Regions from separate parts of the Homo sapiens genome. Here region 2 is linked to region 1. The links come from fine-mapping of genetic effects on plasma protein levels. A gene starts in region 1. The other region holds a variant in brackets. All regions are shown on one strand. Distances are from middle to middle.

Region 1 (8,000 bases):
AAGATTAAAACTCCTTTAAAAGACATCTGTATTAAAATTTTATTTAAACACCATTTTATATTTTGTAATCTTATACAACTGATTGAATCAGTAACTTGTTTGGCCCATTTGATCAATATATAAAATTTAGAAAGTTTAGATCATGAAAAGATCAAATTCAGTTTTATATGAACTTGGAATATTTTATCATTATGTAATAAAACCTGGAAGACATATAATCAACTTTAAATAAATATTATTTTGTTACAGCTCACCCAAATTCATCTATTAATCAGAAATATTTTATACATTTTTAAAAATATAATTTATAAACTTTATATTCAAAAATCATTAAATCATGTTTAAGAGCTCCTCTTTTATCTTGAAAACTTGTTTTTTTTTTTTTTTTTTTTTTTTTGAGATGGAGTCTCACTCTGTCACCCAGGCTGGAGTGCAGTGGCATGATCTCCACTCACTGCAACCTCCGCCTCCTGGGTTCAAGCAGTTCCCTGCCTCAGCCTCCCGAGTAGCTGGGATTACAGGCGCCCGCCGCCACGCCCGGCTAATTTTTGTATTTTAAGTAGAGACGGGGTTTCACCATATTGGCCAGGCTGGTCTTGAACTCTTGACCTCGTGACCCACCTGCGTTGGCCTCCCAAAGTGCTGGGATTACAGGCGTGAGCCACTGCTCCCGGCCGTAAACTTGCTCCTTATAAACATAATAATAAAGGCTATTTAAGTTCATTTGACCACATTAATTTTTACACATTTTTTAAAGCACAATGATTTTTTTCTTAGACATTTTTGGCTGTTTATTTGGACTAGATATTCCTGGACTGCACATATAATGACAGAATGACTTAGTCTCATGAATCATCTTTCAAATTTTTAATGAAAGAAAATGAGAAACAGGAAAAGGTGAGCTACAGCCAGTTTTAGACAAATATGAAATTATCACTGTAAAACGCTAATTATCTTTTCTTTTCAAGGAGAGAGGAAAAAGCTTAAATATAAGCCATGTTATTAATAAAAAACCTTGAAGTATGGAAATAAAATATGGGCAGTCTTCTACTTAAAATGCTCTTAGACAAATAAGACAAATACTGTTCTCCGAAAGTCTTATTTTTTTATTTCTGGTGTTCTTCTAAAGTGTCTCTCAAATGAACAGTCTTCTTCATGTCAAAGTTCCCCAAATTTCACCAATTCTTTGGTAAATTTATCCCAGGAGACAGTGTAAGTTCGTATCTGACAACCCCATCGAAAATTGGCTGATATTCTGTATTTGCAAAAATATTGCCATGGGTGGGTCAGGGTTTAACAAATGCTGAACTAAGAAACGTGGAGAGGCCAGGCACGGTGGCTCATGCCTGTAATCCTAACACTTTGGGAGGCAGAGGAGGGAGGATTGCCTGAACTCAACATGGTGAAACCCCATCTCTACTAAAATACAAAAAAATTAGCCAGGTGTGGTGAAGTGCACCTGTAGTCCCAGATACTAGGGAGGCTGAGGCAGGAGAAATGCTTGAACCTGGGAGGTGGAGGTTGCAGTGAGCCGAGATCACGCCACTGCACTGCAGCCTAGGCAACAGAGCGAAACTCTGTCTCCAAAAAAAAAAAAAAAAAGGTCATGTGTGAAAGACAGTGTCTCGCAAAGCAAATTTCTCATACACGGACAAGACTGAGAAAAGTTTCATTGACATTTGATACAAGATGATGGGCAAGCAGACAGATGGTATTTAAAGGCAAAGTCAATCAGAACCCCCAAATCCCAGGAGACAATAATAAGCATGAAACTGAGGCCAAAGTCCAGAATCCAGATTTACTGCAGAATCTACATAATCAGAAAGAGATACACCTCAAGAGTCTTGGGTGTGTGCATTACTACCAAGTTAAAGGTCCTGGCCAGGCATGGTGGCTTATGCCTGTAATCCCAGCACTTTGGGAGGCTAAGGTGGGTGGATCACCTGAGGTCAGGAGTTTGAGACCAGCCTAGCCTAAACCCGTCTCTACTAAAAATACAAAAAACTAGCCGGGCATTGTGGTGGGCACCTGTAATCCCAGCTACTCTGGAGGCTGAGGCAGGAGAACTGCTTGAACCCAGGAGGCGGACGTTGCAGTGAGCCGAGATAGCACCATTGCACTCCAGCCTAGGCAACAAGAGTGAAATTCCATCTCAAAAAAAAAAAAAAAAAAAAGAAAAGAAAAGAAAAAAAGGTCTCAATCCAGGCAGCGAAGACCTTGGCCAAACTTTGGTAGAATCTCCAAGTTATCCTAGCCCAATTAACCTAAGACCACCAAGGATAAACCTGTACTTCTACAAAGTCAGGTTTATAGGCCCATTGCAATGAGGTAGACCACATACCAGAGAGAGTGCTTTGTATAAGTTCAGTTTTTAAGTTTATTTTAATCCTTGAAGTAAAATATTCAAAATGACTCAAGTTGGAAGCATGGCGTTACATCAAAACTTATCATTTTAAGATTAGTAAAGGAGAGGGGTACAGGTGCATTTTTTTATTTCTCCTGATCCAAATTACATAATCTCCCAATTTAATACTATAGTTTGCAGATTCTCATACTTTGATTTGGGCAGAACTGGTCCAAACCCACAAAAAGCTGAGGATGAGCAAGCCTCTTCCTGGACTCTCATAAGGGGAAGGGAAATGAAGGAATCGAATCACTACCTGGAGTACTGTGTACCTTGCCCTGCCAGGGACGCTGCATGCGGTGTATAAGGAAGTTGTGCTCCAGTATGCAAGCGAAGCAACCAGACTTTTTTCCCATGGACAGGAAACTAGAGTCTTCAGAGATGTCCTATATCAGCGAAAGCCCCACCCTGCACTTCTATAAAGGTTAATGAAACGAAAGATGCAATCCCAGCGAACCTAGCCCACTGACTCCCTCCCCACACCTCCACCTGCTGGTGCCTGACAAGCATGCTGGCCTCTCCTCCAGTAGGAACCAGCAGGCGGAGTAAGGAAGCCCGCTGCAGGCAGTAGTGGGGCGGGGCCTCAGAAGCAGTCAGCCCAGGGCTCTCGGATGCAGGGAGCCTGGGCCCAAACAGCAGCTTCCGGAGTCGGAAGGAGCTGAGGAAGAAGACTGACTGAAGGAGCTTGCGACTTTTCCGCCTCGGCAACCGGACCCAGCAGCAAGCAGGACGGGCGGCGCTCTGCTACTGGTCCCGTTAAGCCAGAGTAGCCCAAGCCCTGAAGTCACTGCTCATCCGGAATGGAAATCCCGCCGACCAACTACCCAGCCTCCAGGGCGGCCTTGGTGGCACAGAACTACATCAACTACCAGCAGGGGACCCCGCACAGGGTGTTTGAGGTGCAGAAGGTCAAACAAGCCAGCATGGAGGTGAGTTTAGCAGGGGGTGGTGGACAGCAGAGGCTTCAGGATTGCGCTCCCTCCACTCACCCGCGGTCTCAGCCTTTGGGTGCAGACACTCCGTGCCACCCCCTACCCACCTTCTGTTTTAGGACACACTGCTGGTATCTGGTCTTGAGATATTAAGGTTTCTGGGGGAATGTCTATACTCCAGTCTCTGGAGACAGCCCGGGACTGTTTTCACCTTAAGGCAGAGACAAAGTTTTTACGCACACAGTTACAAGAAAACGGGAACACGCTCTAGGTAAGGGGCAGCACTTTCCTTAAGTGTAAACTGTAGAAACCATTCAAAAGACTACTAAGGCTGCCACGTTTCTCATCTGCTACTCTGATCTGGACCAACAAAAGCTCCCATCTTCCAAGACTCTATTGCCTACATTTTAAGACAAATCCTTATCAGACCCTTTGACCAAAATGAAGGGGGAAACAAACAGCAAGAGAAACTGACAATCAAAGTCAAAGAATAAAAGCACTGTGGGCTGACGCTGGCCTTTAGCCACCCAAACACCGCTACCACATGACTGCCTTAAATGATGTGCACCCTCTGCTAAAGGCTTGAATTAAATGTTTAAGGCCTCAGCAATCACTAACGAGGTTTGTTTTCATTTTACGAAAATCTACTGGATTTGAGATTATCCCTTATTTATCTGACAGAATTTTAACTGCTAACAGTCTTTTAGAGGTGACACAGTAGATCTTATTTTGAAACTGTACCAGATAACAGAATTAGGTATAAATTTTCAATCTGTATCTTGATTTAAAAGTGAAATACCATTTCTTAGTCTTATATAATTTGTTAATCATTTTGCAGTTTCACTAATGTATAAGTAAAAACAATACTTAATTGTATTAAGTCTCCAATTGCTTTGCAGTAATCTGCCTCAAAATGAAATTCACATTCATTGAACATTATTTGGAGGGTACACTGAGCTTTATGAAAAAATCTTTTCAAAGGTGATATTGTCATCTTTAGAATTAAACGCTGTTTCAAACTTTCTTATGTAGAGACTTTAAGATCACAGATCCAGGGGTTAAATAAAGTCTTTTGATGATTGAAAGTGAATTGTGCCCAATTTGTATGCTTTTATCCTACTCTTTTGTTTTCATCCAAAATAAACTTGATAGGGGACTTGCTAAATTAGATGTTACATTCATGGTGACATGCCTTTTTCAAGACCTAAGGCTTTCACCATTCCCCTTCAGCCAGCCCCTCCAACCAAATGAGATGCATACTTCTAACAATGCAAGTATAATGTTGTTATAATATTTTCTTGTCTCCACTACATTTTCTTAATTTTAGGATATTCCAGGAAGAGGACATAAGTATCACCTTAAATTTGCTGTTGAAGAAATTATACAAAAAGTAAGTTAAATTTCTTTTTTCTTTGAGACAGGGTCTCACTCTATCACCCAGGCTGAAGTGCAGTGGCAGAACATGGCTCACTGCAGCCTCAACTTCCCGGGCTCAGGCCATCTTCCCACCTCAGCCTCCCCAAATAGCTGGGACCACAGGTGCATGCCACTACACCTGGCTAATTTTTGTGATCCTCCTGCCTCTGCCTCCCAAAGTGCTAGGATTACAAGCATGAGCTACCAAGCCCAGCCAAAATGTTCTTATTAAACAAATTTAATTCTAAATATTCCAGATCATCTTTGCTGATCAAATCTGTAAGATTGATTAGTTTTACCTCTTTTTAAAAAGTTGTTGTGAAATACCTGCCTCTGAAAAACACTGACCATATGGGCAAAGTTTACAAGGATCAGTTCTTTACTATCTTTGGGTATTCCTAGGTATATGAATTATTTCTACCAAACTACACAAAAAAAGACTATACACTTCAGTTCAAATGAATTTCTTAAGAAGTTACATACTCTTAGGGCAGTCTGAACTTATGCCTAATATAAATGAGTGAAGTAATTTATTCCCCAATCAATCATCTTCTTAACGTCTGCTTTTCTCATTCTATTTTTCACTGGGTTTTTAGAGAAAGAACGTGCTCTTAGATATTCAGAAGCAATAGAATGCCAGCTGATACCACCATTCAGATGAAGATCTTTCAGTAATGGGGAAGGGAAATTTTAAAGATTATACACAACTGTCAAATTATTAATGAGACAAACTTAAAAGAAAGGAACTGCAATCTGTACCACAGCCATCTTGAAATTTTAAAAAGCTTGCCTTTCTGTTGAGCATAATTCATAAAGAGATTCATTAAAAGGCATCTGAGCTGCTAGACAGCCATCTTTACAAAGCATAACCCAATGCCATAATCTTCTAATTTTATATCCAGACACAGACTGCTGCATCTGCATTTCAAAAACTTTGTTATTTCAGGAGCAAAGAGTAAGAGTAATGGAAAAACTTTAAAAGTAACCAGTCTTGAGTTGGTATATAAAGTCAGATTAAAATCTGGCCTTGCAAATGGACACCCCATTAATACTGAAATATACTGAAAGTTTTAAGACTAGAATTCATAAGATTATGACACCATATCATTTATAAAGTAAGTTATCTATTTTAGGGTATTCACATGATAAGTCTAGAATTTAATAGGCCAGGCCCAATTAGATACCTCTGAAAACAAGCACTTTGAAGTCTAGTCTAAAACAACACCATTAGGAGCCTATGCTTTAAATCATATCTCAAAGATGATAATTAATAATGAATAGCCTTCTGTATATAAGGATATTTTGCTAAATTTCAAACAGCAAGTTAAGGTGAACTGCACAGCTGAAGTACTTTACCCTTCAACGGGACAAGAAACTGCACCAGAAGTCAACTTCACATTTGAAGGAGAAACTGGAAAGAATCCAGATGAAGAAGACAACACATTTTATCAAAGACTTAAGTCCATGAAGGAACCGCTAGAAGCACAAAATATTCCAGGTATATAAATATGGCATGAAAACCATTTGTTTGATTCAAACTTAAAATCAATCTCAATTATCTGTGCTTAAAATTGTTAGTTGCTAAGTATGTTAGAAACTTACAGGCTTTTGCAAAAATACTCATTTCTAATCCAATCCAACAAAAAAGAGGCCTCAGAAATTTTATAGATCCATAGCTTAATTAAATTATTTTTTGCACAACATTCGAAGGAAACTAAGACATGATTTAGAATTTAGATTTTGTTTTAAAAGGTTAATACTATATATATGATTATCATATAAATGTGTCTCCTACCAGACAATTTTGGAAATGTATCTCCAGAAATGACGCTCGTTCTACATTTAGCCTGGGTTGCCTGTGGTTATATAATATGGCAAAATTCTACTGAAGACACATGGTATAAAATGGTAAAAATTCAAACTGTCAAGCAAGTGGTAAGTAGTTTCTATAAAATACACTATTAATGGGGTTAATATTTATCGAAAGTATTGTAATTCATAATTGGATTAACAGTATTCCTATAGTCATTTTGTATTTAATAGCAAACCTGGGATTTCAAAGGGGAGGTCAGGTACAATCAAGATTAGAGAAGGTGAAGAATTGTAGGAAGAGTCCAAAGCAACAGTAACTGGTCTAAAAAGTTGTTTGATTTGGCTGAGAGATGCAAACCACAGGCCTCCTTTGCCTCAAACTTGCCTAATAACTGTGCTTTGTTAGTTGCATGCTCTGGGAACATAGAGACTAGGAAGCATAACAAAAGCAAGGCAAAGCCAAGGATTTCAGTGAAACACTTCCTGTTAATACACAGTATCTAGACTGCACTTTCAAAAAGCATCACGGTAATCATAGCTCTTAATCTTTCGGGTTAGTCAAGTCAGATTTAACTATGATACTTTCCTCAAACCCTCTTCTAGAACAAAAAGGTTGAGAGAGTTTTATTAGTAGCAGCAAGACAGAATCCCAGGTGTACAATATACAGTCAGGCCTCTCCATGGGTTCTGCATCTATGGATACAAACAACCGAGAATCAAAAATATTTGGGGGAAAAAAATGGATGGTAGCATCTGTACTGAACATGCACAGATTTTTTTCTCGTCATGATTCCCTAAGTAATATAACAACTATTTATATAACATTTAGATTGTATTTGGTATTATAAGTAATCTAGAGATGATTTAAAGTATATGAGAAGGTATGCATAGGTTATACGCAAATACTACACTGTTTTATGTCAGAGACTTGGGCATCCGTGCATTTTGGTATCTGAGGGGAATCTTGGAACCAATCCTCCATGGATACTAAGGGACAATTGTAATGACTCTCCTCACCTTTAATCTGCTCTATAGAGATCCTCAGGGCCACTTTTTATGGCAGTCACAAGCAAAGCTGTGCTTTCAGAAGAGTGAAGTCTTGAGTTATAATCCAACATTTAGCTTTTGTGCTCAGCTTAATACAGATTATTTCCCTTAGCAATCTAAGTTTTGTGTTCAAATTACTATAGTCATGCCATACTGAAACTATCTGTTTTTTCCCTCTACTGTACAGTACAGAAAAAAGCTTTAATTACACAATCACACAACTACACTCACTACATTTTACTATTCTCAGGTGTTCTGGTTTTTTTGTTTGTTTGCCTGTTTTTGAGACAGGGTTTCACTCTGTTGCCCAGGCTGGAGTGCATTAGTGTGATCATGGCTCGCTGCAGCCTCAATCTCCCAGGCTCAGGCGGTCCTCCCACCTCAGCCTC
Region 2 (16,986 bases), 520 kb after region 1:
TCTAGTCACCCAAGAGCTCTGATGGAGATGTACAAGGAGATTAATATTGTTTCCATGTCTGCTAACACCACATTCATTCTGTAGTCCCTGAATCAAGGAGTAATTTTGACTTTCAAGTGTTACTATTTAAGAAATACATTTTGTAAGGCTATAGCTGCCATAGATAGTGACTTCTCTGATGAATCTGGGCAAAGTAAATCGAAAACCTTCTGGAAAAAATTCACCATTCTAGATGCCATTAAGAACATTTCTGATTCACAGGAGGAAGTCAAAATAGCAAAATTAACAGGAGTATGGAAGAAGTTGACTCCAAGACCCTTATGTGTGACTGTGAGGAAGAAGACTTCAGTGGAGGAAGTCATTGCAGGTGTGGTGGCAATAACAAAACAAAACAAAACAAAAAACAGAATTAGAAGTGGAGCCTGAAGATGTGACTGAATGGATTCAATTTCATGATCAAATGTGAACAAATGAAGAGTTGCTTCTTATGGATGAGCAAAAAAGTGGTTTCTTGAGATAGAATCCACTGCTGGTGAAGATGCTGTAAATACTGCTGAAATCACGGCAAAGGATTTAAATGTTACATAAACTTAGTTGATAAAGCAGCAGCAGGGTTTGAGAAGACTGACTCTAATTTTGAAAGAAGTTCTGGCCGGGCGCAGTGGCTCACGCCTGTAATCGAGCACTTTGGAAGGCAGAGGTGGGCGGATCATGAGGTCAAGAGATCGAGACCATCCTGGCCAACATGGTGAAAACCTGTCTCTACTAAAAATACAAAAATTAGCTGGGCATGGTGGCATGAGCCTGTAGTCCCAGCTACTCAGGAGGCTGAGACAGGAGAATTGCTTGAACCCGGGAGGCAGAGGTTGCAGTGAGCCGAGATCACACCACTGCACTCCAGACTAGGTGACAGAGTGAGACTCCCTCTCAAAAAAAAAAAAAAGTTCTATGATCGGTAAAATACTAGACAACAGCATCAATTGCTACAGAGAAATCTTTCATTTAAAAAAGGGTCAATCAATGTAGCAAACTTTATTGTTGTCTTATTTTAAATTGCCACCGCCACCCCAACCTTCAGCAACCGCCACCATGATCAGTGGGCAGCCATCAACATCAAGGCAAGACCCTCACCAGCAAAAAGATTATGACTCACCGAAGGCTCAAATGATCATTAGCATTTTTAAGCAATAAGGTATTTTTAAATTAAGGTATGTACATTGTTTTTTAAACACAATGCTATTACATACTTAACAGACTATGGTATAGAGTAAACATAACTTCTATATGCACTGGGAAACAAAAAAATTCATATGACTTGCTTTATTGCAATATTCACCTTCTTGTGGTGGTGTGGATACAAACCTGCAATATCTCTGAGGTATAGCTGTCCAGTCAAGGATTCAGGTTGTTTTAAATTTGGAGTTTTATTGGGGAAATATCTAAAGAAGAATGGAAAGCTATATTTTCACATTTTGCATACATGTATCCCAGTCTCATAATTATCCTGGGATTTCTCATCATATAAATTTACTCTACCTAAGATCACATACCACATGAGCAACAGACAAAGAGAAGTTTTATATACCAATAACAATCAAGACTCTCAAAAACAAGCTCCTCAATCCAAAAAGACAATCTTGGTTCACAAACTTTACAGTATAGGTTCGACACAGTGAACATAATTATGCTAGAGGTATTCGGCTTTCCTTAAACATCACACCTATTCAGATGCTGGTCAAACTCAACCTTTCTTAGATTGTAAGATCCAACAAGATCAAAGACCAACGGGGCATGACTACCAAGTAACTCCACCATCTATTTATCCTTAATACAGTGCTTTCTGAAATCATGTCTTCTAGCTTTATGGCAACCTCAAGGAAACTCTTAAAATCACTTATTAAGTTACAGCATTACCCTGCAACACAATACCATGCCACATTGTCATTCTTTAGTTACAGCAGAAACATTGTGGCTAGCAAGAGACTGTGGAGTTTCCCTGATGTTTTATTTAAGAATGAAAAATTTTAAAATAGTTCAAGAAAAGAAGCAGAAAATAACCAATAAATAGGGGGGTGGGAATTGCCTCTACTGGCAACTCTACAAGAAGAGAGTTCCATACCCATCCTCAAGTGTCTCCAAAGAGAAAGAGTTGCAGATCACTTTGATGGTTAAGAGAATCTCTAGAAGAGGCACTTAAGTAACTGACACAAGATTTAAGCTACATAGTTAGTAGCAAATAAGCAAATGTGACTGAGAATTTGCTCAGTCAATACAAATACAGAAGGTATAGGGAGAAAGTTGCTTTAAAAAGGACAGAAAGGGTTGCCCAGAGGTAGGTTGTCTGGAAAACTCCACCTGCTTTCCTCAGGACTTTACTATACCTGAGAAATTTACAGAGCATTTAGTTCCTAGATACATATAGTGCCCACTTAGGCATCTTTACATTTATTATTCTAAACTTTCCAAGTGTTAGGGTTATTAGATCTACTAAGATCATAATTAAAAGATGTCCTATAAAATGGCTTTTAAGCCTAAGATAAAACATGTACAATAATCAAATACAACAGAAGCCAAATACTCATTCAAATGTGAAATCAGCTCCTCAGTTAAAACTAAAAGTCATATTATTAAACGTGAAACTACAAGACTACAGGATCAATTTTTAATTCACATCTCATTTACTTCTGGGAAGAAGAAATAAATTTAGAAGATAATATGTACTCACATGTATCTCACTTTAGGCAACAGACACGAACTGGAAACATTGAGTAATCAAACATTTATATACCAAATTAACTCCTACACAAATTCTGAGATGAATTCATTCCAAGAGAATACTGATGGGAAGAACAATATCAACTTTATTGGTACAGCTTTTATTATTTTCAAAATACTTTCACAAAATATAATATGATCTTTACATCAATTCTGTGAAAAAGACAGAGGAGACATTTAATTCCAGTCACTTACTGAACAGTTACTAAGTGCCAGCCAAGAGCTAGCCACTAGTGATACTACTGGAATGACTAACATCCTGCTTGGCCCAGGACTGAAGAGTTTCTTGGGACATGGAACTTTCAGTGCTAAAACAAAGTCCCCGGCAAGCCAAGATGGTTGGTCACCCTAGCAAAAATCAATACGGCACAGACACTGTCCTCAAGGAGCTCACTATTTAATATTATGATTCCCTAAAACTGAAGTTCAGCTAAGTTCAATTATTTGCCTAAGGTCAAACAGCTAATAAGAGAAACAGAGTCCAGAGAAACCAGGTCTTCCAACTCCTACTTTATACTCGTCTCCTATATTATTCAATATCTGAAAAAAAAAAACATTTTGCCCATAAGATATGATTTTTAATTTTTATAAGTACAGAAAATTAAATATACAAATACACTAGACAGAGATTTAATACCTCAAGCCATAATCAAAGGCTCTAACTTATCTATCACACTTAAAAAGAACCTAACAAGTTTCATTTTACTCTACAATATTAAATATATGTTACATAGTTAAATCATAATGCCAAGGACTTTTGTGAGGTTTCTTATACTACCCTAGTATATTTTAATTAACATTCATTCATTGAGCAATACTTGTACAGTATTTACTGTACAGTATTTACTGACTACATATAATGACACTGTGTCCTCCCAGAACTTTTTGCATGCCTAAAAGGGTAGCATTTACATATCAGAAGCATAATCATGTTCATATATGTTTTCTCACTAGATTTTAAGAATACTGGTTCTGCATTCACACCGCGCAGCACAGGACCTACCACCTAGTTGGCATTTATTTGATGGCATTCAGGACATATGTACTTGGGCAGGACACACTCCCCCAAAACATTTTAAGCTGAACATATCTGGGAAAAACAAAGAAGCTGGAAAGGCAGCCTCTGTTCTCCCTCTTCCCCTTCTCCCCTGAAGTAGGTCATGAACACTACAAAAGCTTTCTGACCTAGTCAGGAAGCAAGTCGCAAGATCCTCACTGAAGAGGTGCCCTCCATATCCCCAAAAGAAAGAAACATCCTAATCTTTGAAGACACAAAGTCACAGAGTAGAATCTGAACAAACAGGCCTTGCTAAATTCCCCCCAGCTGACTAACATTAGATCACACTTTTTTATCCAATCATGCTTCACGATTATCCACTTCCTCATCAAGCCCAGCATAAAATATACACAGATTTACCCCTTTCTTCATGTCTTCATTTCCTTATGAAGGCTCCTGTGTCACTTTATTTATTATAGTAAATAAATCTGTATGCTTCTCTCTTGTTAATCTGTCTTTTGTTGCAGGGGCCTCCGCCATGCACCTGGCAATGCGTGAGAAAAAGATATTTTTTCTCCCCTACACATTCAAAGGATAAATATAAGGTATATGGGCAATATCAAGTAAAATACTCATAGGGAATATATAATTTAGTTAGAGATGTACATAAATAACCTCACTGAAGTAATGGCAAATCTGACTGGTATAGGTTATGAAGTTACCAGGAATTTAAAAGAGAAAGAAGATGAATTCCTTACAAAGAATCCTATGCCCAAATAATATCTTACACAGAACCCTAACATACAAGAAAATTAGATATAGATCTGTTCCAGTTAAAGCACCCCTCGCTCCCAAACAAAAGAAAAACTCATGGCAGTCCCGGAAGCACCTCCACAGATTTCCAAAACTCCACAGATTAAAGATCAATTCTAGCTCCAAAATACTTCCCAAAATGCTTTCCCACTCCAACTACCAAGCTAAGCCAAGGAACAACCCTCTCTTATAGTCTCTTACATATCATCCTAATTGATATCAAGACCTACTACTGTCCCTAACACATAATATTAATATAAGCTCAATAAATATTGTGTGAAATGGAAAAAAACACAACCAGACAGCTTATTAAATGAAGATCTTCATTTCAATTAGCAAATAATATTACTATATTTAGAACATTTCAATTTCTTATAGTCTTTGCTGTTCCAAATAATGTTCACCATTTTTAGAAACTGTGTTCAAGTCAGAAATACTCAGCTTTGTGATTTCCCCCAAATACAAAGTAAATCCAACCCTTTTCTTTGGTTTTATGCTATGGGGACAAAGGCAAATAACAAACATAATCTTATACTGGTGCAATAAATGGACCCACCTTAATTAAAAGGATGTCTAAAATAACTGGCAAGTCTAACAGTTATGATTCAATTAAAAACTTTCAGCCTTTAATCTATCATATCCTTTAAACAGCACTAGCAGTTGGCAAGAGCAATTCAGCATTACAACTTGGTCCTTTACAACTTTTCCCTGCTTTTTCTACAATGAATGATAAAATTAACCAAAAACCTTTTGGAACAAAAAAGTTTACATAAGAGAAGACCCTTAAAACAGGCTTTTAATTTGAAAATAAAATGTTAACAGAGATGTAGAATATTAAAGATAAACACCACAGAAATCCTCTTTATCTTCAGTGCATTTTAATGAGAATAAAACATTTCCTAAAAGTTACTGAACTTGAAAAACAAAATTGTGTTACAGGGTTATGCTGTCACTCAGTTGAGTGCTTTCAGAGTTCCCTTGAGGTTGCCAGAACAATAGGAACATGATTTTTCAAAGTGCTGTATTAGGAATAAATAGACATGGTAGTTACTTGATAGCCATGCCCCCTTGGTCTTTGATCCTGATGGGTTTTACAATCTAAGAAAGGTTGGTTTCAACCAGAGTTGGAATAGGTATAATGTTTAAGGAAATCTGAATACCTATAGCATCATGTTCACTATGTTGAACCTATACCTAATTTTCTCAAATAATTTACCCTCTTCCCTCCAAATATATTTTACCCTCAAATACGAATAAGTGAATGTGCATGTATTCACCTTTAAGAATTTCATTTCCTTTTATAGTCTGTTCACTTAGACCATCGCATCTGCAACAAGCATGCCATTCCCACATCCCCTATCAAGCTCTACAACCAAGATATAGCCTAGTCACGCGTGACCAAACCAGATGGGAATACCTGATCTTAAGGCAGGCAGTCCACAGCTGGCCAGCAACCCTTGATATAGCTCATCCCATATAAGAATTATTAGTTGAGTCAATCAGATTCCCTCACTCAGGAATGTAAAGTGGGATATACTGAGAAAATGATGCAGTTAGAAGAAAGAACTAAAGCTAAAATAGAAATATCAAAGGAGCTTTGATGATCATTCAGTATGCTCAACTATAAACACTTAAGAGTAAAAAGAAACTATAAAGAAAAGATAAACTGTACTCAGTAGTAGGTAAAGAAGCTATAAAGTAGTAAACCGAAAGTACAGCAAATACATAAAAGCATACATTTGTGACTGGGCGCAGTGGCTCACGCCTGTAATCCCAGCACTTTGGAAGGCTGAGGTGGGTGGATCACCTGAGGTCAGGAGTTCGAGACCAGCCTGACCAACATGGTGAAACCCCGTCTCTATTAAAAGTACAAAAATTAGCCAGGCGTGGCGGCATGTGCCTGTAATCTCAGCTACTCGGGAGGCTGAGGTAGGAGACTCACTTGAACCTGGGAGGTGGAGGCTGCAGTGAGCCGAGATCGCGCCATTGCACTCTAGCCTGGGCAATAAGAGTGAAACTCCATCTCAAAAAAAAAAAAAAGTATATATTCGTATACAAATGTATAAAGTAGCTGAGGCAATCCAGTTCTGCAGAACTAGAATGAAATACCGTCTTTTTTTATTTTTTATTTTTTGCTTTTCTTTCTTAACTCTTCCCTCAGCAGAATCAACTCACAAACACCTTGTTGCTAAGGGCTCCTAGAGAATAAACAACTGATTAAAAGATGAGTTTATGACATTCAAAACTTGGCAAAGTAGTTAGTAACCCCAATTTACAGATGAATAAACAAGCCCAGAGAGAAGTCAAAATACATGGTTCTAAGTCATGAAAAAGGGATTGAAATCCAGGTCCTGTGACTCCTAATCTAACACTATTGATATCTTACTGTACTGTTTCTCTGAGTCATGTCTAAGGCTTCCAGTTACACCTCATGTGCCGCATACACACACACACACACACGCACACACACACACACCTTTTAAGAACAAATTTGGATCTTGCACATTTTATGAGGAGAATGATCAAATTGCTTCTCCAACCCAACTGAACATTCCAATGACCCCATACAATTATTGATACATGTTTACCAATAGTCTTACATGCACCAAACAAGAAGAGCTACAAAGGGGACAGATAAAGGGAAATACATAGGAAGCATATCATTTACTCTTTTTAAAAAAGTTCCTGGGGTTTATAATCCCAGATAATAGGTAAGTATACATCAATTACCTGTACCACGTTTAATAGTAACAATATCTCAAAGCTATTCAAGTTGTTCCACGGACCAGTGCTAGTCCACAAACTAGTACAGTTCACGATGGGATAAAGAAATTAAGAATAAGAGTTTAGAAAATTTTATAGTTATTGGACACAACTATAACATTTTTATTGCATTTTTAAAAATATTAGTCTGCAATGGATTGAAAATATAGAGTTTAAAAAAAGTCCTTTACCACAGATAATTTGAGAAGCACTGCTAGACTACATAAACAGAATTAGTATGATTCCCTACACAGCCAGATTATAATATGAGAATTTCTCCTATTGTTCAACTAAATGTATACTTCTAAAACGTACACTTTTGAATTTGGAAAAAAATTTGAACAAACCAATAATGTAGTAGGAAACTGGGATACCATTCAGGAAATACTTTTTAAATTTGTTTTTGGAGGCTGATTATTGTACATGACTTAACCACATGAAAAAATAATCTATTTTCTGTTTTCTTCTAGGTTACAAAAAAATGAAAACTGCTACTTTGAGGTCAAAGATAAATTTAAAGTTAGGTTTTTTGAAAAATAAAAAAAAAAGAAAATTTATTAAAGATATGGAACATAGATTTCCTGAAGTATGACAATGGCTTAAATGTGGAGATAGGTAAATACAAAAACATGAGTTGATGGCCAGAAGATGAGTACCAAAACATCAAAATAATGATGGAATTGTAGTCCCAGCTACTCAGGAGGTTGAGATGAGAGGATCAATTGAGCCCAGGTGGTCAAGGTTGCAGTGAGCTGTGACTGCACCACTGCATTCAAACCTGGGTGACAGAGCAAGATGCTGTCTCACACATGGAAAAAAATAATAATGGCATTATGTGATATAAGAAAATTTCCTTTTAGCGGGTAGAGATTTAAAGTGAAGTACACATTTGTAAAATAACACAGTGTCCCATTTTGCTTTGAAATACATCAGCAAAAAAAAAAAAAAAAAAAAAAAAAAAGGCAGAAAAGCAGAAGAAAGAAAAGGAAGAAGATGGAGAGGGAGGGGGAGGCAGCAGCACTACCACCAGCAACAGCAGCAGCACAAGCAGCCATGGGGAAAATCTTGGTAACTGTTCAATCTAGGTACTGTGTATATATTGTATTTCTTCTCTTGAGTATGTTTGAAATTTTCTTAATAAAAAAGCCAATCTTAGCTAGAAATATTTCTATTTCTGTGGATAAATTCCTCGACACATACACCCTCCCAAGACTAAACCAGGAAGAAGCTAAATCTCTGAATAGACCAATAACAGGCTCTGAAATTGAGGCAATAATTAATAGCTTACCAACCAAAAACAGTCCAGGACCAGATGGATTCACAGCTGAATTCTACCAGAGGTACAAGGAGGAGCTGGTACCATTCCTTCTGAAACTATTCCAATCAATAGAAAAAGAGGGAATCCTGCCTAACTCATTTTATGAGGCCAGCATCATCCTGATACCAAAGCCTGGCAGAGACACAACAAAAAAAGAGA[A/T]TTTTAGACCTATATCCCTGATGTACATTGACACAAAAATCCTCAATAAAATACTGGCAAACCGAACCCAGCAGCACATCAAAAAGCTTATCCACCATGATCAAGTAGGCTTCATCCCTGGGATGCAAGGCTGGTTCAACATACGCAAATCAATAAACGTAATCCAGCATATAAACAGAACCAATGACAAAAACCACATGATTATCTCAATAGATGCAGAAAAGGCCTTCGACAAAATTCAACAGCCCTTCATGCTAAAAACTCTCAATAAATTAGATATTGATGGGACGTATCTCAAAATAATAAGAGCTATTAATGACAAACCCACAGCCAATATCATACTGAATGGGCAAGAACTGGAAGCATTCCCTTTGAAAACTGGCACAAGACAGGGAGGCCCTCTCTCACCACTCCTATTCAACATAGTGTTGGAAGTTCTGACCAGGGCAATCAGGCAGGAGAAAGGAATAAAGGGTATTCAATTAGGAAAAGAGAAGTCAAATTCTCCCTGTTTGCAGATGACATGATTGTATATCCAGAAAACCCCATCATCTCAGCCCAAAATCTCCTTAAGCTGATAAGCAACTTCAGCAAAGTCTCAGGATACAAAATCAATGTGCAAACATCACAAGCATTCTTATACACCAATAACAGACAAACAGAGAGCCACATGAGTGAACTCCCATTCACAATTGCTTCAAAGAGAATAAAATACCTAGGAATCCAACTTACAAGGGATGTGAAGGACCTCTTCAAGGAGAGCTACAAATCACTGCTCAACGAAATAAAAGAGGATACAAACAAATGGAAGAACATTCCATGTTCATGGATAGGAAGAAGCAATATCGTGAAAATGGCCATACTGCCCAAGGTAATTTATAGATTCAATGCCATCCCCATCAAGCTGCCAATGACTTTCTTCACAGAATTGAAAAAAACTACTTTAAAGTTCATATGGAACCAAAAAAGAGCCCGCATTGCCAAGTCAATCCTAAGCCAAAAGAATAAAGCTGGAGGCATCATGCTACCTGACTTCAAACTATACTACAAGGTTACAGTAACCAAAACAGCATGGTACTGCTACCAAAACAGAGATATAGCCCAATGGAACAGAACAGAGCCCTCAGAAATAATACCACATATCTACAACTATCTGATCTTTGACAAACCTGACAAAAACAAGAAATGGGGAAAGGATTCCCTATATAACAAATGGTGCTGGGAAAACTGGCTAGCCATATGTAGAAAGCTGAAACTGGATCCCTTCCTTACACCTTATACAAAAATTAATTCAAGATGGATTAAAGACTTAAACCTTAGATCTAAAACCAGAAAAACCCTAGAAGAAAACCTAGGCAATACCATTCAGGACTTAGGCATGGGCAAGGACTTCATGTCTAAAACACCAAAAGCAATGGCAACAAAAGCCAAAATTGACAAATGGGATCTAATTAAACTCAAGAGCTTCTGCACAGCAAAAGAAACTACCATCAGAGTGAACAGGCAACCTACAGAATGGGAGAAAATGTTTGCAATCTACTCATCTGACAAAGGGCTAATATCCAGAATCTACAAAGAACTCAAACAAATTTACAAGAAAAAAACAACCCCATCAACAAGTGGGCAAAGGATATGAACAGACACTTCTCAAAAGAAGACATTTATTCAGCCAACAGACACAAGAAAAAATGCTCATCATCACTGGCCATCAGAGAAAGGCAAATCAAAACCTCAATGAGATACCATCTCACACCAGTAAGAATGGCGATCATTAGAAAGTCAGGAAACAACAGGTGCCGGAGAGGATGTGGAGAAATAGGAACACTTTTACACTGTTGGGGGGACTGTAAACTAGTTCAACCATTGTGGAAGTCAGTGTGGCGATTCTTCAGGGATCTAGAACTAGAAATACCATTTGACCCAGCAATCCCATTACTGGGTATATATCCAAAGGATTATAAATCATGCTGCTATAAAGACACATGCACATGTATGTTTACTGCGGCACTATTCACAATAGCAAAGACTTGGAACCAACCCAAATGTCCATCAGTGATAGACTGGATTAAGAAAACGTGGCACATATACACCATGGAATACTATGCAGCCGTAAAAAATGATGAGTTCATGTCCTTTGTAGGGACATGGATGAAGCTGGAAACCATCATTCTCAGCAAACTATCGCAAGGACAAAAAACCAAACACTGCATGTTCTCACTCACAGGTGGGAATTGAACAATGAGAACACTTGGACACAGGAAGGGGAACATCACACACCGGGGACTGTTGAGGGGTGGGAGGAGGGGGGAGGGATAGCATTAGGAGATACAGCTAATGTAAATGACGAGTTAATGGGTGCAGCACACCAACATGGCACAAGTATACATATGTAACAAACCTGCACGTTGTGCACATGTACCCTAAAACTTAAAGTATAATAAAATAATTTAAAAAAAATTTCTATTTCTGAAAGAAATGAAGGTGTTTATTCTACTTACAATCCCTTACAATTTAAAAATAAAATCTATGTATTTAATGTCCTTTGATGGACTTTACAAAGCATCAGTAAAGGGAAACACTAAAAAGTACTTTTAAAAACAATACCAGGAAATAATATAGAGGATGTTCAAAGTGTAACAACACCAATTCAGTCATATTTTTAGCTTTTTCTACAGCTAGTAATAATAAAAGCCAACATAGTAGCAGACATTTACCATTAATGATTACTAGAGCCTTTGGCATTGCCATATGAAGTTTAATTCCCCAAAGTTGTCAATTATAGCTTGGTAATATCCTCTTGGTGGGATATTGCTTGAAGATACAGAAGGCTTTTCTACCAGCTTCCTTCCTGCTTTATTACCCCTAATTCAAGGTTTGTTTTTTGTTTTTGTTTTTCATTTCCACTCAAAGTTCAGAAATCATGACTGCTAAAAAATTTGGAGAATACTATGTTAGTAACATAACAATCACTATTGCCTAAAAAAATTTTATAAGCTATTGTTTTATTGATAGACATGAACCTAGTCATATACAATCCTTGATTTCTAAGAATTTAAACAATTGAGTAAAAAGTGAATTCCAAAATACTTTTCATTTAAAAAAATAAGTAATGTCCCTACTATTTAACTTTGATATACATATTCTTGAAGTGGCATTAAAAGAACCACATCATGCTATCTCCTAGGGGAAAACAAATACTTAAGGTCAGATATTCAATGCATTACTCTTTCAGATAGTACCATTCCCTTCAATCTTTTCTTTAAAAGTGGAAAGGCCATCTCTGATCAGTAATTTTAAAGCCTGCCTGAATCCCTTTCAAAGATTTTATCTCAAAACCTAAAAGTATATTATTAATATTTTTCTGAAGGTTCCCTCCAAGATTTCAAACAATCAACCAGGATTTTAGAAACTAACATCCTGGGAATAAGTGTTAGACTTGAACTGGTCTAGCATATACCTGACGATGCACACAACTCTTCTTCTGGAGGTAGAGATAATCAAACAAAGGTTAGACTTTCAAAAAGCCTCCTTAACAAAGGCCTCAAGTAGATTACTTTTTTAAATACCTGTATTGGAAATGTAGAAGTCAATCATTCATTCAATCTACTGAATCTACTATTAGGATGCTGAAATACAATGTTAGGTACCACCATGCTAGGAACTGATGATACAAAATTAGTAAGACTTGATCGCTGTCTTAAGGGAAGCCTACGACACAAGTGAGGGAGAGAGAGGCACTTGAAAAAACTGGCATTTTCTTCATCCCTCCAAATCTCATGTTGAAATATAATCCCCAGTGTTGGAGGTGGACCCTGGTGGGAGGTGTATGGGTCATCAGGGTGGATCTCTCATGAACGGCATGAACGGCATGGTGCTGTCCTCAAGATAGTGAGTTCTACGGAGATCTGGTTTGTTTAAAAGGGTGTGACACTTTTCCTACTCTCTCTTGCTCCCACTCTCACCATGTGATGTGCTGGCTCCCCCTTCACCTTTCACCACGTTTATAAACTTCCTGAGGCCCTCACTAGAAGCAGGTGTTGGCACTATGCATCATATCTACCCTGCAGAACTGTGAGCCAACTAAACTAAACCTCTTTTCTCTATACTACTCAGTCTCAGGTATTCCTTTTTAAGTGATGCAAGAATGGACTAACCGTTGGTACGAAAAATAAACTACTCCAAAAGTACTCCACAATGAACCATTCCAAGATGGCTACAGGATCAACCCACTTAATATTTTTATAAGTTATCTAGAACAAGAAACAATACTGAAATCTTCTAATATGAAGATGATGAGAAATGTCAATACTAACAAAGATCAACAATTAGAAAAACTAGGGAGATATATATAAAGAAACAAAAATCTACAATGAAGGTAAGCATAATATAATAGATTTAATGGATAATAAAACTTTCAAATCATGATGATTAAGTTCTTAAAAATCCTCATGGTAGGAGAAATCTTTCTTTCTTTCTTTCTTTCTTTTTTGAGACGGAGTCTCGCTCTGTTGCCCAGGCTGGAGTGCAGTGGCACACTCTTGGCTCACTGCAACCTCTGCCTCCTCGGTTCAAGCGATTCTCCTGCCTCAGCCTCCAGAGTAGCTGGGACTACAGGCGTGCACCACCACGCCCGGCTAATTATTGTATTTTTAGTAGAGACGGGGTTTCACCATATTGGCCAGGCTGGTCTCGAACTCCTGAGCTCAAGTGATCCGCCCATATCGGCCTCCCAAAGTGCTGGGATTACAGGCATGAGCCACCACGCCTGGCCGAGAAATCTTAGATAAAGAACTCATAACCTAATCTTTTAATGAGATTGCAAAACAATCTATAATGGTTCACAAATGCTTTATATTCCCTAAAATGAAATGCGGGGAACAAAGAAGACACTGAATAGCTACCAATGGTATTTCTCTACCCTAAACTGGTAATAAGCTACACTCTTAAGTAGTATTAGAACTTAAGATGAAATAGGTAAATACATGGGGCTAAAATAAGAAGGAAAGGATGTAGTTAGTTACTGGGAAGGACCTGCCTCCTACCTTAGCTCATAGATATTTACACTTGCATAGTCATTTAAGTTTAATTCTAAAAGCTGCTTGAATATTTCTGACATTAGCATAAATGTGTCCTTAACCAGGAGGTCCATGGAGTTTTAGGACTTCTGTGAATCCTGTTAAAGAACATGCAAAATTATGCATGTAAATATATGAAATTTTACGTAAAGATGATCCATACTTCTCATCAGATTCACCCTTTGACATCACACTATACCTGATGTGACCCAAGAAAGGTTAAGAATCAACCAGCAACCAGATTTTCCTGCCATGATCCAAAAAAACTGGAATTTTCTCCATCCTTTGGATAAAGCATGGAATAGAAGCTGTGGACTTCTTTTGAAAGTCTCTTTACACTTCATTATTGGCTATAATTCATTCACACCTCATCTGAAGGTCCATTCTTAGACTTTGCTTAGACATTTTCTCAAAATAGGGACTTTAAAAACATCCATACCTATTAATTCCTATAAAAAGCTTTGATTTTTAAAAAGCATTTGAGGCAAAATGTTAGTTACCAGTTTTATAAATTAATAAAAATGCTCCGTGATACTACAGCTCTCTGGTGCCTGAGAGCTTTGCTTCCATAGTCAATATTCCTCAAGCTTGATTACAGGAGAGTCATTTTAAATCCTCTCTAGCAGGAAGAGTCTTTTCCTTTATATAACACTACTAGACATTTACCTGGGCAGTAATATCTCTAACAGCATAAACAATGTTTCTTTTTAATCTTTTCTTGCCCAATATCACAAAGGCTACAAATACCACATGGTAGTACACGTAGCACAATGATAAAATATAATACATTTTCATGATACTTAGTATATATGTGACCAATCACCTAAGAGGAAATTGGCAGAAGAACAAAAGTAGAAACAAGTGACTCAGATGTCCAGCAGAGGTTCTGAAAAACATATACAGTACAGAAGTAAATTTACATTAGATCTGAATTCCAAATAAGGCAAACTCATAAATGAGAAGGGATTATTACACTCATAAAATAAGAGAGCTCTGGAAAGAGATCTGGGAGTCATTATATACTGTTTCCTGAACAGTAACATGTCCAATGTGCTGTTACAGTCAGAAAGGCCAATGGTAATAGTGGCCATTAGCAGAGTGCATATCGGAAACAGAAAACAAAATACTACCTAAGTCTATTTTATATAAAACCATTTCTTAACAAGAGCCTGACAATCCATGTAAGGAAAATAAAATTTTTAGGAAGGTAAGGGCTGGGGGCCTCCCGTATGAAAGTGAACTATAAAACTTTTAAATCTACAGCCTGAAAATAATGCTGAAAGGTAACTGACTCAAAATGCACAGATTCCAAAGGCAAGAGGTAGTGACAGAGGGTGAACACAAATTATTTCACAAATAACAGAACCAGTGAAAACCCCAAAATCTCAAGTTTGGAGAAGAAATTAATTTATAGAGTAGAGGATGCTAATAGGTTATTTCGTAACTTCTTCTCACAATAATCCTGTGAGGAAAAAATTTACCATGTATTTCAACACAAATCTTTGGAAGAAAGATTAGAATGCAAAATGTCCTTCCCATATTTATTTTAAAAAGAAAAAAAATACTAATTGGATATTCAGGCCCAGCATGGTGGCTCAAGCCTGTAAATCCAAGCACTTTGGGAGGCCAAGGCGGGCAGATTACTTGAGACCAGTTCAAGACCAGCCTGGCCAACATGGGGAAACCATCATCTCTACTAAAAATACAGAAATTAGCTGGGCGTGGTGGCACACGCCTGTCATCTCAGCTACTCGGGAGGCTGAGGAAAGAGAATCACTTGAGCCTGGGAGGCGGAGGTTGCAGTAAGCCGAGATCATGCTACTGCACTCCAGCCTGGGCGAAAGAGCGAGGCTCCATCTCAAAAAAAAAAAAAAAGACTAATGGGATTCAGTAAAAAGCATCATTAGCTATTAATTTCACGTCTCTGTGAATGCAGTTTATTCTAAGTATTAAACACACACAAGAAGTTACTGAAGTTCACCACCATCAGGAACATACAATTTAATATGCAGTTTCGTATGGTACTATCTGCACTTCCTGATGTAGTTGTAGGCTTGCAGCACCCACAAGATAAACATGCTTATTAAAATAAAATTTTTTTTTTTCCAGACTAAGTCTTGCTCTGTTGCCCGGACTGGAGTGCAGTGGCGCGATCTCAGCTCACTGCAACCTCCACCGCCCAGGTTCAAGTGATTCTCCTGCCCTGCCTTAGCCTCCTGAGTAGCTGGGATTACAGGCACCCGTCACCAGGCCCAGCTAATTTTTGTATTTTTAGTAGAGACAGGGTTTCACCATGTTGGCCAGGCTGGTCTCGAACTCCTGACATCAGATGATCCACCTGCCTGAGCCTCCCAAAGTGCTGGGATTACAGGTGTGAGCTACCGTGTCCGGCCAAAATAAAATATTCATTCTCAAAAAATTATAGTAAGTACTAGAAGAAAATGTCATCAAATATTAAGCAGTGTTTTTAGAAAACAGAACAAATATGATGATCTTTTAAGAAACAGATTTATAAATACTCTAGACCCTTCCTCACCAAACAATGAGTGAAACATAGACTAAACAAAATGAAAGTAAAGAGAATAATTAAGGAATTATTTACTTAAAATCAACCCCACCATAAAACACACAACAGTTTACCTACTTTTAAACTACTTAAATATTTTAAGTAATCATTATTAATTTTTTGGCAAGATTCTACAATTCTGCAATTTCACAGGAATGACTTGGGGAAAATAATTTTAACTTAATGAATTATCCTTTTCCTCCTGAATACATCATGGAATATAGGAAACATTATTTTCTATAGTTTGTTATAACACAATGATGGAAAAGAATAAGTAAACAAAGATATAGAGAAAAAATAAAAAGGAAATCTTATGACAATAAGTTCATTTAAAGCAGGGACTGCATTTAAGTGTTTGCCACATTCAAGGAGCCACCCAATAAAACTGCTTAGTAGTTAGTTAAATCTAATAGTAGTGCTTATGTCAAGCCACCTTGGTAAACTCTGGGCTGGGCCCTGCCCAGGAAACAAAGCACACCCCACATAGAATTCTCTCAATCTTTCCGTCACGCTGCATAAA

Direction of the effects. Alleles are on the strand shown, and positions count from the first base shown. The strength of an association depends on the size of the effect and on how common the allele is.
With allele A in place of T in region 2, the plasma level of the protein whose gene starts at base 3,035 in region 1 is higher (weak association).

The links. A credible set is the group of variants that fine-mapping cannot tell apart. PIP is the posterior inclusion probability: the model's chance that the variant is causal. Protein levels are from antibody-based Olink assays in UK Biobank. Linkage for the fine-mapping came from a reference panel and not from the study's own genotypes, which makes the PIPs less certain.
Region 2: its variant is the best candidate, but not a certain one, in a credible set for the plasma level of the LXN protein (UK Biobank, PIP 0.73).

What each region holds. Positions count from the first base shown.
Region 1 is chr3:158,667,683-158,675,682 of GRCh38, reverse strand. LXN (latexin) reads left to right here and starts at 3,035. Exons shown (of 6, transcript NM_020169.4): 1 at 3,035-3,333; 2 at 4,664-4,726; 3 at 6,073-6,250; 4 at 6,551-6,687. The coding sequence starts at 3,205. All of the region lies in intron 13 of GFM1 (G elongation factor mitochondrial 1), which reads right to left. RefSeq lists enhancers at 2,662-2,851, 3,162-3,211, 2,633-3,225, 3,652-3,711, 3,226-3,818.
Region 2 is chr3:158,138,426-158,155,411 of GRCh38, reverse strand. The region is part of intron 3 of RSRC1 (arginine and serine rich coiled-coil 1); the gene reads right to left. Among named protein-coding and RNA genes, the nearest start is that of RSRC1, 37 kb to the right of the region's middle. The variant A/T (reference allele first, on the strand shown) is at 8,826.